Homo sapiens: one gene and its partners. The protein of the gene in region 4 purifies or fractionates together with the protein of the main gene of each other region. This does not show direct contact. Each region holds a gene or a part of one and is shown on either strand. Other genes may lie near its edges.

Region 1 (3,797 bases), on a different chromosome or scaffold from region 4:
GCAAGGCTGGCAAGGGGATTGGGGGCTGCTCTCAGGAACACGGAGAGGCCGCATTAGGCAGGCAGGGAAGTGCTGGGAAGACTACGTGCTCCTCTCCCACCAGGGACCCTGGCGGCCCTCCTGCTAGTTCTCCTCCTGGTGGAGGACACTGGGGGATGCCGAACAAGAGGCTAAGCCTGCGGCCCAGGCCCTGCTGAGACCACACCATGGCTAGCAAGTAGAGGGACAGCAGCATATCCCCTCAATTCTGCCTGCACGGTAGCTGAGCCAGACGTCCCCACACCCACCCCATTATCAAGGAAGATCTGCTCTGCAAATTGAATGGGGCGTTAAGACCTTAAGGCTCTCCAAGTCCCTCTGGTACTTCTCACGCAGTGTGGCCGCGTCGCCCTCCAGGTCCTTGTGTCCCAGCTCCTCCCGCATGACATCCATCTGGGCCTCCAGCTCCTGGATGCGCTCCCTCAGCCCCGTCATGGAGTCAGCCTCTCCCTGGGTGGCCTGCCAGTTGGGGGCAGGGGCTGGCAGGGCCTTGGGGTGTGGCCCCTGGTGGAGGCAGAGGGTGTCCTGAAGGCACCTCAGGCTCTGCGAGTAGTGCTCCTGCAGGGTCCTCAGCTCCTCCTCGTGGATCGTCTGCAGCTCCCGGACCTTGAGCTGGAACCTGTCCTCCAGGGTCTGTATCTGCTCACCATGATGCCTCTCCATGTCCTGCCTGTCTCTGACCGAGGCATCCAGCTGGCTCAGGACCCGGCTGCGCTCAGCCTGCAGTGTGCTCTCGGTCCTGGTCAGCTGCTCCACCACACACCGAATCTCCTCCTCATACCTGCCCCGCAGGGTGAACATGCTCATGCTGTGCTTGCTCTCTGCATCCTCCAGACACTGCTGCTGATGGTCTAGCTGGGCGGCCTTGGCCTTGAGCTCTGCATTCTCCCTTTCAACAATGGCGATCACATCCAGGTACTCGCTCTTCTGCTTGCGGAGAAGCTCCTCATACTCCTCCCTCAGGGCCCGGGCTGCCTGTGCCTGCTCTGAGCAGGAGGGCTCCCGGGTTTGCCAGGACTCCTTGCAGAGCTGGAGCTCCTTCTCATATTCTAGCCGGATTCTGCAGGACGCATAGCAAACCTGGGCCTGAATAATGGCATCCTGAACCAACAATGAAGAATACTGACCGAGGCCTCCCAAACAAGTGTTATACGAGAGACTCTGGGACACCTGGAGAAGCTTCTGGCAATCTCTCAGCGATTCCACAGGTGGCAGAGATGGTAAGGCAGCCGCTATCTCCTCTAAGAGGCTGGCCTTCTCCTTCAGCTGCTGGGCAAGCTCCTCCTGAATAGCAACAAAGGCCCCAGGGCTCTGGTCAGACACATCGAAGGGCTCCTGAGAGCTGTCTGAGTCTCGGCCCAGGACTTCTCCTAAGGGGCTCAGGTCCCAGGACAGCTGAACACCATCTTCATGGCCCGCTGGAAGCCTGAGGGCTTCCAAGACCTGCTGCATCACTCTTTCAAAGTCTGGGGTTTGGTAGGCTCCCAGGATTTCCCTCAGCAGGCATTTGTGCTGCCGCAGGGCCGTCTGGGTGCCCCGCAGGGTCTCCTGGATGCTCTGTAGCCTGCGGTGGAACGACTCCCTCACTGACTGTGTGGCAAAGCTGAGCTCTGCCCTGACCCATGTGGCATTGGCCAGGATGGGGGCCAGGCCCTGTGGGATGCTTTGCTGCCCGTCTCCTGAGGCACCGACTGCCTCTCCTCCCAGTGTCCCCAAGTGCTTCCTCAGAGACTCAACCTGGCTCCAGAACTCACCATCCACTAGGACCTTCCTGGCCCAGGTGTCTACGGGGGCCCCAGCAGATTCCATCGGTGGCTGTCCTGACCAAGAAATCTCATGGAGCATTCGGGAGACATCTGATGTTGTGTTCTTCAGGGAATCTGCTATCTGGCTGATCAGCGAGGCCTCCAGAGCAATCTGGTCAGAAAGAAGCCTCACCTGCTCCTGCTCTGTCAACTCAGACTGGGAGCACTGCTGCAGGGAGGCAGGCTTCCCATTCTCCTCGGTGCCACCTGTCTCCAGCTGTGCACGGGCCCCGCCATGGGCTGGGGCCGGCCAGTGCTGCAGGGCTTGGATGGCGCTGACGAGTGCACTCTCCACACTGGCCAGGGAGGCTGCGCGTGCGTCCTGCTCATCCTCCTGGCTGGCCCTAGGCAGAGATCTCAGTTGTTCTCGGCAATTTTCCAGGCACATCAGGGCCTGACTATTCTTGACCTGGAAGTCCCCAAGCTCTCCAACATGCCCTTCAACCCTCCTGGCCCTCTCCTGCCTCTCCTGCTCCAGCTGGGAGGCCAGTGCGCCAACCTGGAGCAGGCTGGCGCGGAGCTGCTCACGCAGCTGGGCCTCGGTGCCCGCCCACTGGTGGTGCAGTGCGAGCAGTGCCTCACGGCTCTGACCCTGCTGGCTCTCCAGCCTCACGGTCACGTCTTTGAGCTTTTCCTCTGTGACGTAGAGCTTGGTCTCCAGGGAGTGGATGATGGAGAGGTACGTGTCAGAGTCGCCAGTTGCAGGCAGTACACTGGGTGCAGGCTCTGAGGACATGCTTTCTTCCGAGGGTGACCGGTCCTGGCTGGTGTCGGAAGATGTGCTGCTGGTCCAGGTCTTCTCAGACCCTTCGGGGTGAATGTATCTTTGGCACTGGATTGTGGAGAACCGGATTCTTTGCCTTTTAACACCAGGTGCCCCTTGGTCGAGTTTGGCTGTGCCCTGCTGATGGCCCTCCCTGTCAAGCACTTCCACTGACTTTGGGGGCACCATGCTGTCTTCCCTACTGGGGCTGCCATCACCGTACTCTTCCCCCGGAGGAGCCCCCAGGTCCTCGTCCTCATCCTCGAGCCTTGTGTGTGGGAGGCCTAGAGGTGCCCTAGTGGCTTGGACTGGTTGGCCTGGGAGCAAAGTGCCATCCCTTTCTGTCTCTTCAGGGGTACTCCGTGGCTCTTCCATGTCCTTTGGAGATTCACTTGCAAATTTCCTTAAAATCTCTTCTTTTGCCTGGAGCTTAATTTCTGTTTCCTCTAAGCTGCTCCCCAAGGCAACCATTTTAACCAAAGCCTCATTGAGGTCCTGCTCCTTCTTCTCCAGAACCTTCTCATGTGCTTCCTTAATGCGCTCCAGCTCTTCCTCCTTCTCTCTCAGCAGAGTGTGCATGCTCTGCAGCTGGCTGGAGACCCTCTGGTAGGAGTGCTCCAGGCTCTGGTTGTCAGCCTCTCTTCTCCTCAGCTTTTCCCGGAGCTCAGCCACATCCTCGTCGGACGTGGCCACGCGCTCTGTCAGCTCCTGGAACCGCTGTCTGAGGAGGTCCCGCTCGTCACAGAGGCTCTGCACGTGCTCTGCGAGCCTGCGCACGCTGGCCTCTCGTGCCTCCAGCTGCTCCTCCAGCTGGTGCACCTGCTCACTGCCCTCGAAAGTGGCGCTCAGCTTCTCCTTCTGCAGGGTCTCCACCTGCTGTGCCTGACCCTGCAGCTGGTCCTCATAGGCGCTGGCCTTGTCTTCCACTTCCTTTAGGTTCTGCAGCAATGCCTGCTTCTCCTTCTCACAGCTCTCCAGCAGCAGCTCATAGTTTCTCTGCAGCTTCTCCTCCATCAGCCGCTGCGCCTGCTCACTGGCGCCCAGTTGCTGGCTGAGGTCGGCAATGCGCTCCTGCAGCCTCTGGACCTCCTTCTGCCGGTCCCGCTGCAGCGCCTGCTGTGTCTCCAGGCCCCGTAGCTCCTGCGTCTTCTCCAGCAGCAGGGCCTCAGCACTCTTGAGCTTCTGCTCGC
Region 2 (3,797 bases), on a different chromosome or scaffold from region 4:
TCCTCCACACACCCCCTTGAGCCGGCATATTACCAGTTACTAGAGTAGGTACAGTGGAAGTGAGTTATGAAGCTGGGGTGTTAGCTTCCTGGATCCCTGAGAGAAAGTTCTAAACTCCTTTCTCCCTGATCAGACTCACATCCTAAACGTCTCCCTTTGCCTCGTTGTCTTTTAAAGCAAGAATGTGTAAGAAATTCATTTTGGGGTTGGAGGGATATTTTGATGTTTAGGGCTGCTTCACTAGACATCTTTTTCTTCTGATCTTGTTCTCTCTCCTCTCTTCATTTTCTCAACCACCCTTCCACCACTGAGCCTCCCAAAGGATGACAGCCCAGGTCCTGGCCAGAGTCAGTTCCTGTCCAGATGCCCCCATTCTTCAAAACCCCTTCCTTACCTTTTGGGAAGCCCTTCCTTACTCAAGTCTATCTCTCTTTCCTCCTGCTGCAGTGTGAGCCCTTGCACATCAGAACCCCCAAGCCTAGGTTTATTCCCGCCCAGTACTCTCTTCTCAGGGTCCTCCTCACTCCTCAGACTCTTTACCTTTCAGGTCCTCCAGCTCTGCGTGTGGGCTCATTGCTCTTGGGGCATCTGGGTGCAGCTGAATGGTACTGCAGGAAGGCCCCTGACTTGGTAGTGCTGGGTATGAGCGATAGAGAACCTGCCTCCCTCTTCTGTCCCAGATTTCAGCCTGGTTAGCAGGATCCTGCATTGTTTGGAGAAGGAAGCAGTTGGCTTTGGAGTGTTTCCGGTGCAATGGCCTCAGGCACCAATATAAACCCTCCCTGGGAAAGAGGTGAGGGGTATATGTGGAGAGTTGTCCCTCTTGCTCCCCTAGGGGAGATGAAAGCCTCTCCCTCTCCCACCAGGCCTTAGCTTCCCTGGCTGAAGAGCTCCATTTTCCTCCCTCCTTTCTACCCTCCTGACTCCAGGGGTGGTAGTGGTCCCTATTCTGGGTCTCCCTTGAGTCAGGCACTGCCTAGGGCCGAGACTCTGTCTCTCCAAGATAGGACAGATCTTGCTCCCACCCTACTCTAGGCTCAGCGGGGTAGTCATTCTCTGGGTTCATCCCAGGACAACTGTGTCATCCCCTTGGCAATCTCTGGACTGAGCCCCCTTCCTGGCTTTTCTGGCTGTCTGTCTGTCTTTCTGTCTGTCTGTCATTAGTGTGCGCTGTCTTGGCTTTTTAGAACCTCTCTGTCTCTCACCCTCTCAGTTCATCTCTTACTGCCGAACCTTTGTGACATTCTCTGCCCTGCTTTCTGCGTCTCTGTCACTTGTCTTATTTTTCTCTGCCTGTCTCCATTTACCCCCATCCAGGCCTCTTGGTATCCCAAAAGCTTCTTGGGAGCAAGAGTCTCTCTGGGCTTTCCCACTCACCCCCTGGCTCCCTCCCCTCTGTTTTGGCTATTTTTCCCCCTTCCTGGCCAGACCCAGTGTCCAGTTCAGCACCAAAAGTTTCCTCTCCACTTTCCTCCGACTTCCTCTTTCTTCTTCCCCCTCCACTAATTTGGGGAATGGGTTTTGGAGAGAATGTTTCTGGAAGAAAGGAACTTGATACCCTTTGTGGGCTAAGAGGGAGAAAGGAGGTATTTCAGAAGGAAGGAGGGAGGTTAGACTTCTGGCAGAACTTCCTCCTGACCAGGAGCCTAAGAACTGGAGAAAGATGTAAGGAGTGAGTCAAGAACTTGGAGCTTTTACTCTGGTGAGCATAAGCTGTGTGTGTGGCTGGGGTGGGGGGAGAAGGAGAGGAGGCTTAGAAATGCCTGGTGAGTGATATGGTGACCTCTGGAGGCCTTCTGGGGGTCTGGCTTTTATTTGTGGGGAAAGGAAAAGCTGGTGGGGGAGGTCACGGGTCAGGCTAATGTCCTGCTGCATCAATATTGACTCAGAATGGAAGCGGAGACCCTTCCCCTCCCCTGGCTGTCCAAGCCACCCTGTCTGTCTGTCTGTCCAGGCCGCAAAGCAGAGGCCCAGACTCAGGAATGACAAAAATGTGTCTGAGCCTCAGGAAAGAGCCACTGGGCAACACCCAAAATACAAAAAATTCAGTGAAAACCTCTCGGTTTGGGTTTGGGAGGCCCTTGCTGCCCCACCCCCATAAGGTCGAAAATTCAGATTCCTGCAGGCTCTGTCCCCGCGCCGCCCCCCCACCCCACCCCCCGCACCTTGAGCATCCTCCTCCCACTCTGTTCCCTTAGCTATATCATGTGGTTCCCTTTAGAGAACCCCCCTCTCACCTAGCTCAGAGGGGAGCCTATCTCTCCTTCTGCTGTGTCCACTCTTAAAAAGGGCCCCAAGAGTCCCTGTCATGCTTTTGCAGTCCCTGAGTCTCCTTGTCCTTTAAGAAGCACCTCTAAGGTCTTAGCTCTCTTCCTTGCTCTCGCTCCCTCAAGGGGGTATCAAAGGATGGGTTCCCCTCCTCTGGAGAAGACTCCTTCAGGGTTGGACTTCGCTGTCACCCTCTCTGGCCAGGCATTCTCACCCCACTTCCCCACCCCCAAGGTCCCAGAATGGGACACAGAATGACAGCCAAGGGTCAAGCAGGGCAGTGGGGTCTGTGTTGTGTCTGGACGCACACCCAACTCTACACCTCCTGCCCTGGCTCCAGCTTGGTGGCCCTGGGGACCGTGGCTGGGCTGGGTGCCTGGGTTTGGGGGGGTGGGGCAGGGTGTTGGCCAAGTTAGCATGGCAGTCACATTCATCTTCAGGCAAAGCCGAGAACAGACGGCCCCTGTGTCCTGGTGTTCTTCCTCCAAACTCGCTCTCTCTCCTTCCTCTCTAGATCTCTCCTTCTTCTTCTCCTGCCTGTCTTCCCCTTCTTCTGTCCCATTCTTGCTCCTCTCTGTCTCCCCTATGCCCTTCCCTCCTCTCTGAGGAGCCCTGAAGGCCACCCCTTAAAATCCTCTCCCCACTGCCAGGGCCAGAGAACGACAGCGTTCTCCCTGCAATTTCCCTTCCTTGTTTTTTGTTTTTGTTTTGTTTTGTTTTTGAGACACAGTCTCACTCCATCACCCAGACTGAAATGCAATGGCGTGATCTCTGCTCACTGCGACCTCCGCCTCCTGCTAATTTTTGTATTTTTAGTAGAGACAGGGTTTCACCATGTTGCCCAGGCTGGTCTCAAACTCTTGACCTCAAGTGATCCGCCCATCTCCGCCTCCACCTCCCAAAGTGCTGGTACTACAGACGGGAGCCACTGCGCCCATCTGGTTTCCTTTCTTTCTTTCTTTTTTTTTTCTTTTGAGATGGAATCTCGCTCTGTTGCCCAGGCTGGAGTGCAGTGGCGCGATCTCAGTTCACTGCAAGCTCCGCCTCCCCTGGTTCACGCCATTCTCCTGCCTCAGCCTCCTGAGTAGCTGGGACTACAGGCGCCTGCCACCACGCCCAGCTAATTTTTCATATTTTTAGTAGAGACGGGGTTTCACCGCGTTAGCCAGGATGGTCTCGATCTCCTGACATCATGATCTGCCTGCTTCGGCCTCCCAAAGTACTGGGATTACAGGCATGAGCCACCATGCCCGGCCTGGTTTCCTTTCTTAACCCGGCTGCATCCCATGACCTATGAGGAAACCACCTGCTCAGTTACCAGTCACCCTGTGCCTCAGCTCCCCCATGTGTGAGAGGGGGGCCGCAAGGGCACCCACCTCACAGGGTTATAGTATCTAAGTGAGTTAATAGTCACCGTATTTCCAATCAGTGGCTGGTGGTTAGCAAGGTGAAAAAGGTTAGCTCCCATCGGTCAGGGAGACCTCCGGGTTCTCTCATGCGGGCCAGGAGGCGGGGAAGGCCTTAGTTGC
Region 3 (3,797 bases), on a different chromosome or scaffold from region 4:
TTTTGATATGATACCTCCAAACAGATTCTTAAAACATCAATATATTTCCAAAAACTTCAAAGAGAGATGATCTAGTGCCGATACTAAGCTGCCTGTCAGTTAACTGCTAACTTTAAAAAATCGTCATAAACATCTGTTGCCCAGATATCAAACTCAATTAAAGTATGATCATGCACTACACTGGTCTGCATTATTAATTATTTGCACTCTCTAAAAGAATATGCATTAACAGTTACAATTATTTGGCATAACATTTAGGATTAAGGTATTAGGATATCCTAACAGGAATTATTTAGGATAATGCCTTCAACTTTTAAGCTGAGCCCAAACAAAAGCTTATAAAGAGCATTTTCTGAATTACTAAATTGGTTGTACCTTAATGAAAGAGTATGGCAATAATCGGTTTTTACTTTTCCACTTGGTTTCCATTCTGTGTAAACAGCTGAATTAACATTCCGACATCCAAGAGATTCTGTTAGGCCCATCCAGCTTAAGTTCACCTGAATGTCCATGTTGTTGAACTCAAGTCAGTTCATAATTTATCCTACCTTTACAATTTAGGCAACTTTTCGACAACTGCTCTTACTATAAGGTTGAACGTGCCTCCTCTCTTCCCCAAAGTCATAAGGTGACTCAGTAAACTGAAAGATACATCACTGTTACATTAAAAATTCACAATGTCACAATTTTTCAAGAGACAACAATATGGACAATTGAAATGAAATTCCTAATATTTGAACTCTAAGTTGTTCCATTTTTGCTGCTTTGCATAATTCCAGTAAAGATCATTCATACCTGTCTTATGGGAATGGCAGGTATACCATAAGACCTCCCAAAACTGCCAGCACACACACAGGCAGTCACATACAGTGACCCTGTACCTCAATCTACCATTTGATTCTCCAGGATTACCTTAGAAAACTATGTGTATTTTCAAAAGCCACAAAGTTACTAAATGGTGTGAACAATAGAAACCAAACTATAGATTCAAATTAATTTACTTTGGTGTTCAGTTAGTACACAATTCAGAAGAGACAAGAAACAGACACTGGTGTTTTAAGTTTTAAGCAGTGGTCAAGATACTCAATTAGAAAGAAGATTAGGAAAATATGAACAAAGCACATCTAACCTATTTAAGCAAAACAGGGAAAGTGCCTATGAAGACATTTCTCAAGCCACCTTACAATAGGGTTCTGACTTTAAATTTTGTTTACCCACCTTCTTCCTTTCCACAAAAAGGCAAAGTATTGGGGTAGTTACATAAAATCCTGCTTAGTAAGTGGAAGTAAGTATTGTATTAAGAGTTCCATCAAGGTCTTGATTAAGAGGTTAGAAGAGGATATAGGAATGCACAATTTTACAGGTATTAATAAGGTTTTTTTAAAAATATTAATACATGTAAAACTAAAATATATACCTAAAACCTGCCTTAGAACAACCCCAAAGTCTGTTTCTCTCATACATTTAACTGATGAGCTTCATTGAAATCCCCCTCCCGGTAGTTTTATTACAAGGAACAATAGCAAAGGAATCCAATAGAGATATTAAAACAGTAAAAAGCATTTCTAAAGATCGTTTGAGACTCATATTTATATTATATGGACAAGACTTATTATCAGAACTTGAACACCTATAAAGTGCTTTAAAACCAATCATTCTTGTTACTGAATTTATATAAGTTTGGGAAGCTATAGATTCCATTAACCAATATGATTTCTCTTGAAATGTTCTTTGTATATCAGCAATATGCTGTCTTCACATGTAGAAACAGAAAGCTTTCAGAAAACAGGGAGAGAAAAAACATAGTCACCCATAAAACTTTAGAAAACCCAAACTTGCCCCTCTTCAATGTGGCAATAAACAATACTGCCATGACCTATTCAATGCCATACAGTTTACAAAATGTTCCTGATCATATTGTAAGGATCTCTTGGATAATAAGAATTCACTACTTAAGAACCATTCAGATACATCTTTCTTCCACTATGAAATCTCAAGACTGCCTTTGTATTATAGTACACAGTACCAGATGCAATAAGAATGGGGAAAGCAGATTTACCAAATATGTAATAAGTTACAGACCCTTATACCAATGAGAGCTAGAACAAGCGGATTTCTAACAAACTTTTTTAAAACTTGGGGAACTAATGGGAAATTTTTCAGAAAGACATTCTTTTCAACGTGAGGATAGAAAGATTTGTAACAAGGATAACTAGCTTCTCATGCATTGAATATGGGGGAAACACATAAAACTACTGTTTTTGGAGGAAAAATTATTAGAAAACTTTAACAAAAGATAGAATGTGTTATTTCAGACACTATAAGCTCAAGTGCAGTGGCTATATAATAAAGCAAGGTGCCTATTCCTGAGGAGAATGTACTCAGTAATGATGCCGAACAGTGAGTATTAAATCTAAGCAGTGCCAAAAAGGCAATGATTGGGAGTTCAGGTAATGTGTTACAGACAGACTTATGAGAAATTCCATTACTTAAAAATAATCTTGTCCCTATCATTAACCCTTTAATTTTGTTTTTCCTGATGTGCTAAAGTTCACTGGAAACCTCAGAACAGGTTTTATAAATTGGCCATGTCTTGTTAATAGACTGCAGTCTTCAAATTTACACAGAGCTGCAGGTCTCCTGGATTTTTTCAAGTGTCACTCATCTAACTGAACCTGATAGCTGAGAAATGCCATCAGGTACTTTACAGTCAGTTTAAAAAACATCCTCTACCTGGTATCTCTGCAGTGATTGTCTTGCTGCTCCCTGAAACCTCTTCATCATCATCTGATGAGCTCGTGCTTGAGTCACAAGTCAGGTCACTATCACTGGTACTACTGTCCTGCAGCAGGTTATATTTCTTCCTTGCAGCAGCCTCCCGTTTCTGCCTCAGTAGCCTGATCCTCTCCTTGTGCTTTTGGCTCCGATGACCTTTAACCTTGGCGACTCGGCCATTCTGTTTATCACTGGATTGCCGGTTTTTCTTGGCAGCCATAGTGGAAGTTTCACTTTCAGATCGGGACCGCCTAGACTTGCGCCCAACTGTGGCACCAGACACTCCTGAAGGGTCTCCTTCTACCGCCGTTTCTGCCTGAGAGGGTTCATTCTCTTCTGCGGAAGACAACGTATCTGAATCAGCCAGGTGACCACTAGAGGAAGGGGAAAGCATGCAGTGATTAGAGGAGTCACTCTCATAAACTCGGCCAGTTGTAGGCTTGTCACTCTCTGTGGATGCTAACTGAGACTCAGAAGAGTCCCTTCTCAGTTCCATCAACAAGCAGGGCATTGAAGAAATAACTGTAGAATCCGCTACACCATCTTTCTGAACTTGAGATTCCAGTTCTACAGATCCATCTTCCTCCTTGGCTGTCTCTTGTTCAGATGCTTTTGGTGGGGCTTCGGACTCAATGAGTTCTTCAACTTTTCCCACTGCCTCCTCCATCTTCATTTCAGAATTTCAAGTTAAATCATGGAGTAGAGTCTAGGAAATGATATCAAAGATGCAACAGGAAAGCAACCTGTACAAAAACACACAAAGTCAATAAACAGAATGCCAGATTATTTAGTCAACACAACATGCCTACCTTTCTAAGTGGGTGGGGCAAAACTTACTATTACACAGGCCTTTAAAATATATATATATTATTATCTGCTTGTTTGATCAACAGTCAAATTCAAAGGACTTAATACGGTCAAAATCTAAGCATACTGAGCTACTAAAAATGCCATAATATTAATCCTCTAACTTGAAAGGCCAACATGTAATGAACATTTTCAAGTTTACAATTTTATTTAAA
Region 4 (3,797 bases):
ATAGGCGTGAGCCACCGTGCCTGGCCTGGGCCTTTCTTCTTCTAACTGTTACACTGGGTGCTTCCCTCCTGACTTCCAGCTCCTCTCCTGACTTCCAGCTCCTCTCCTAACAGCAACAGAAGCACACAGGGTTGGATACTGCCCTTGGCTCCCACTGCCATCAGGTGCTCTGTTAAGTCATATGATCACTGAATTTTAAGTGTCTTATCTTTCACCTGGGTCATGTAGGTTTTCTCTTCCTGCAATAAGAGCTTCTTTTAAACAAGACACCGAAGCAGAGGTCAGCCTAGACGGCCTCCGGCTTCAGCTCTTGGTCTTGCTATGACATCAGGAATTCATCTGTCTGTGCCTCCGGCTTCAGCTCTTGGTCCTGCTGTGACGTCAGGAGTTCGTCTGTCTGTGCCAAATGATAGGGACAAAAAAGATGGCAGACTGGTTTTGTTTTGGTTATGCAATTTTTCTCATAACCATAAACGTTAAAAAAAATTTCCAAGTGGATTTAAAAAAATGTATCTTTTATTTTTGAGACAGGGTCTTGCTCTGTCATCCAAGCAGGTCTTGAACTCCTGGCCTCAAGTGATCCTCCTGCCTCGGCCTTCCAAAGCACTGGGATTACAGATGTGAGTCACCACATCTGGCCCCAAAAATGTATCTTTTGTTGTTTTCCATGCCGATTTTGTTGAAGCCAGCTCTCTCATCTTTTCCTTGGAGAAGTATCCAAGGCAGTCAGTTTGCATGGCCCCCATTTCGTGTGTGAACCAATATCTGATCTCACTAACACCAGCATGTGGGGCGAGCCCTGATCTCACTAACACCAGCACGCGGGGCGAGCCCTGATCTCACTAACTCCAGCACGCGGGGCGAGCCCTGATCTCACTAACTCCAGCACGCGGGGTGAGCCCTGATCTCACTAACACCAGCACGCGGGGCGAGCCCTGATCTCACTAACACCAGCACGCGGGGCGAGCCGTGATCTCACTAACACCAGCACGCGGGGCGAGCCCTGATCTCACTAACTCCAGCACGCGGGGCGAGCCCTGATCTCACTAACACCAGCACGCGGGGCGAGCCCTGATCTCACTAACACCAGCACGCGGGGCGAGCCGTGATCTCACTAACACCAGCACGCGGGGCGAGCCCTGATCTCACTAACACCAGCACGCGGGGTGAGCCCTGATCTCAAGAACACCAGCACGCGGGGTGAGCCCTGATCTCACTAACACCAGCACGCGGGGCGAGCCCTGATCTCACTAACTCTAGCACGCGGGGAGAGCCCTGATCTCACTAACACCAGCACGCGGGGCGAGCCGTGATCTCACTAACACCAGCACGCGGGGCGAGCCCTGATCTCACTAACACCAGCACGCGGGGCGAGCCCTGATCTCAAGAACACCAGCACGCGGGGCGAGCCCTGATCTCACTAACACCAGCACGCGGGGCGAGCCCTGATCTCACTAACTCTAGCACGCGGGGAGAGCCCTGATCTCACTAACACCAGCACGCGGGGTGAGCCGTGATCTCACTAACACCAGCACGCGGGGCGAGCCCTGATCTCACTAACTCCAGCACGTGGGGCGAGCCCTGATCTCACTAACACCAGCACGCGGGGTGAGCTCTGATCTCACTAACACTAGACGCGGGGCGAGCCCTGATCTCAAGAACACCAGCACGCGGGGCGAGCCCTGATCTCACTAACTCCAGCACGTGGGGCGAGCCCTGATCTCACTAACACCAGCACGCGGGGTGAGCTCTGATCTCACTAACACTAGACGCGGGGTGAGCCCTGATCTCAAGAACACCAGCACGCGGGGCGAGCTCTGATCTCACTAACACCAGACACGGGGCGAGCTGACACGGTCACACAGTTCGTAGGATCCAGCAGTGTGCTTACGACGTCACGTATTACGGTTCTTGTTCTTGGCAACCCTGTGGGGTTAAGCACTGTCAGCATCGCCATTTCACACCTGGGAAAACTGAGGCAAAGGCCCCACAGTTCCAGAGTGAGGGTCAAGTCCACAGCCCCTGACTTGAGAGCTATGCTCTTGACCCACTACGTGCGTCCTAGAAATCAAAGACATCAGATTAAAGTGTGAGTTTAGGATCAGGAACCCACCTGCCTGCTGCTAGAGAGGCTGAGGTGGTCCTGCCAGCCATGCGCTGCTGCAGGCGTCTCTGTGGGCATGACCTGGGGCTGGCATTTGGTGAGATGTCAATCCACACCTGGGAATCCGTCCTATTGGCCCTAAATATGGAAAAGATATTTATTGTGGCATTATTTATAATAACCTAGGTTGGAAACAGCCCACATGCCCATGCTGGGAAGTGGATAAGTCACCTGTGCCTTTTCGATTCAACTGGTCATTGTGCAGGCATTAAAAGTAATGCTTCCTTCCTGGCCAACATGGTGAAACCCCGTCTCTACTAAAAATACAAAAATTAGCTGGGCGTGGTGGTGCGTGCCTGAAATCCCAGCTACTCGGGATGCTGAAGCAGGGGAATCGCTTGACCGCGGGAGGTGGAGGTTGTGGTGAGCTGAGATCGTGCCACTGCACTCCAGCCTGGCAACAGAATGAGACTCTGTCTCAAAAAAAAAAAAAAAAAAAAAGTAACGCTCCCTATTGTCAGTAACGGGGAAAAGCAACGATCATACTATCATAAGTAAAATCAAACCAAATGCAGACACCACCAGGGAATGCGTGCCCGTCTCCTGGGCCATCCTAGACAGCCGTGTCCACACTTGCCACCCTCTGTGGCACATCCCGACAGACAGCAGAGGATGCCTGCTCTGAGCAGCTCCCTGTCCCGCCCCCTGGTTTCTTTCTTGTGTCCGAGTTCCTGACTCCTGACGCCGGCTCTTCCCTGCCAACAGCTAATTCTGAAGGACACTAAGACACAGAGAGCGTGTGCAAGGACTGGGAGTTGTGTTAGTTCATTGTGTGTTACTATAAAGGAACACCCGAGGCTGGGTAAGTTTTTGTAACGAGGTTTACGTGGCTGGCGGTTCTGCAGGCTGCACAGGTATCTGCTTGGCTTCTGGTGAGGCTGCAGGGAGGGAGCAAGAGACGGGAGGAGGCACCAGGCTCTTTAATGCAGGAGTCCCTGACCTCAAGACGGGTCCATGGCCTGTTAGAAGTGGGTCACACAGCAGGAGGTGGGTGGCAGGCGAGTGAGCGTTACCGCCTAAGCTCCGCCTCCTGTCAGATCAGCGGTGGCATTAGATTCTCACTGGACCACGAACCCCACCGTGAACTGCATGCGAGGGATCTAGGTTGCACGCTCCTTATGAGAATCAAATGCCTGATGATCTGAGGTGGGACAGTTTCATACTCAAACCATCCACACCACTCCCTGTCCACGGAAAAAACTGGTCCCAGGTGCCAAGAAGGTTGGGGACCACTGCTTTAAACAACAAGCTCTCCAGTGAACCTCAAGAGTGAGAGCTCACTCATTACTGTGAGGAGGGCACCAAGCCATTCTCGAGGGATCTGTCCCCGTGACCCGAATACCTCCTGCCAGGCCCCTTCCCACACTGGGGATCACATTTCCACATAAGATCTGGAGGGGACAGACGTCCAAACTATACCAGGAGCTCGAATGCACCCTTCACCTAGGACAGGATCGGCAAGCAAATCCGGCCCACCTCCTACGTTTGTAAATAAAGTTTTATTGGCACAGCCACGCTCGTTCATTCATATGCCATTGACATCTGCTGTTGCCCTACACAGCAGGGTGGGGACCTGCTCTTCACGGGAGAGCTAGTTGTTTAAAGCAGTGGTCCCCAACCTTCTGTGGTCCCC

The links. Proteins that work in one complex are often made in the same cells at the same time.
Region 1: the proteins of ZFP41 (region 4) and MPRIP purify together in Homo sapiens (affinity purification with mass spectrometry; 3 studies listed by BioGRID and IntAct, with this or other methods). This does not show direct contact.
Region 2: the proteins of ZFP41 (region 4) and LRP1 purify together in Homo sapiens (affinity purification with mass spectrometry; 3 studies listed by BioGRID and IntAct, with this or other methods). This does not show direct contact.
Region 3: the proteins of ZFP41 (region 4) and ARK2N purify together in Homo sapiens (affinity purification with mass spectrometry; 3 studies listed by BioGRID and IntAct, with this or other methods). This does not show direct contact.

Annotation. Positions count from the first base shown.
Region 1 is NC_000017.11:17,164,455-17,168,251, reverse strand, and holds part of MPRIP (myosin phosphatase Rho-interacting protein), read right to left. Parts: coding exon 337-3,797; intron 1-336. UniProt on the Homo sapiens protein: Targets myosin phosphatase to the actin cytoskeleton. Required for the regulation of the actin cytoskeleton by RhoA and ROCK1.
Region 2 is NC_000012.12:57,131,481-57,135,277, forward strand, and holds part of LRP1 (prolow-density lipoprotein receptor-related protein 1 preproprotein), read left to right. Parts: intron 1-3,797. UniProt on the Homo sapiens protein: Endocytic receptor involved in endocytosis and in phagocytosis of apoptotic cells. Required for early embryonic development. Involved in cellular lipid homeostasis.
Region 3 is NC_000018.10:46,215,532-46,219,328, reverse strand, and holds part of ARK2N (protein ARK2N), read right to left. Parts: intron 3,519-3,797; 5' UTR 3,449-3,518; coding exon 2,734-3,448; intron 1-2,733. UniProt on the Homo sapiens protein: AMPK substrate important for exercise capacity and skeletal muscle function.
Region 4 is NC_000008.11:143,253,439-143,257,235, reverse strand, and holds part of ZFP41 (zinc finger protein 41 homolog), read right to left. Parts: exon of another isoform or gene 3,645-3,797; intron 1-3,644. UniProt on the Homo sapiens protein: A putative DNA-binding regulatory protein associated with meiosis in spermatogenesis.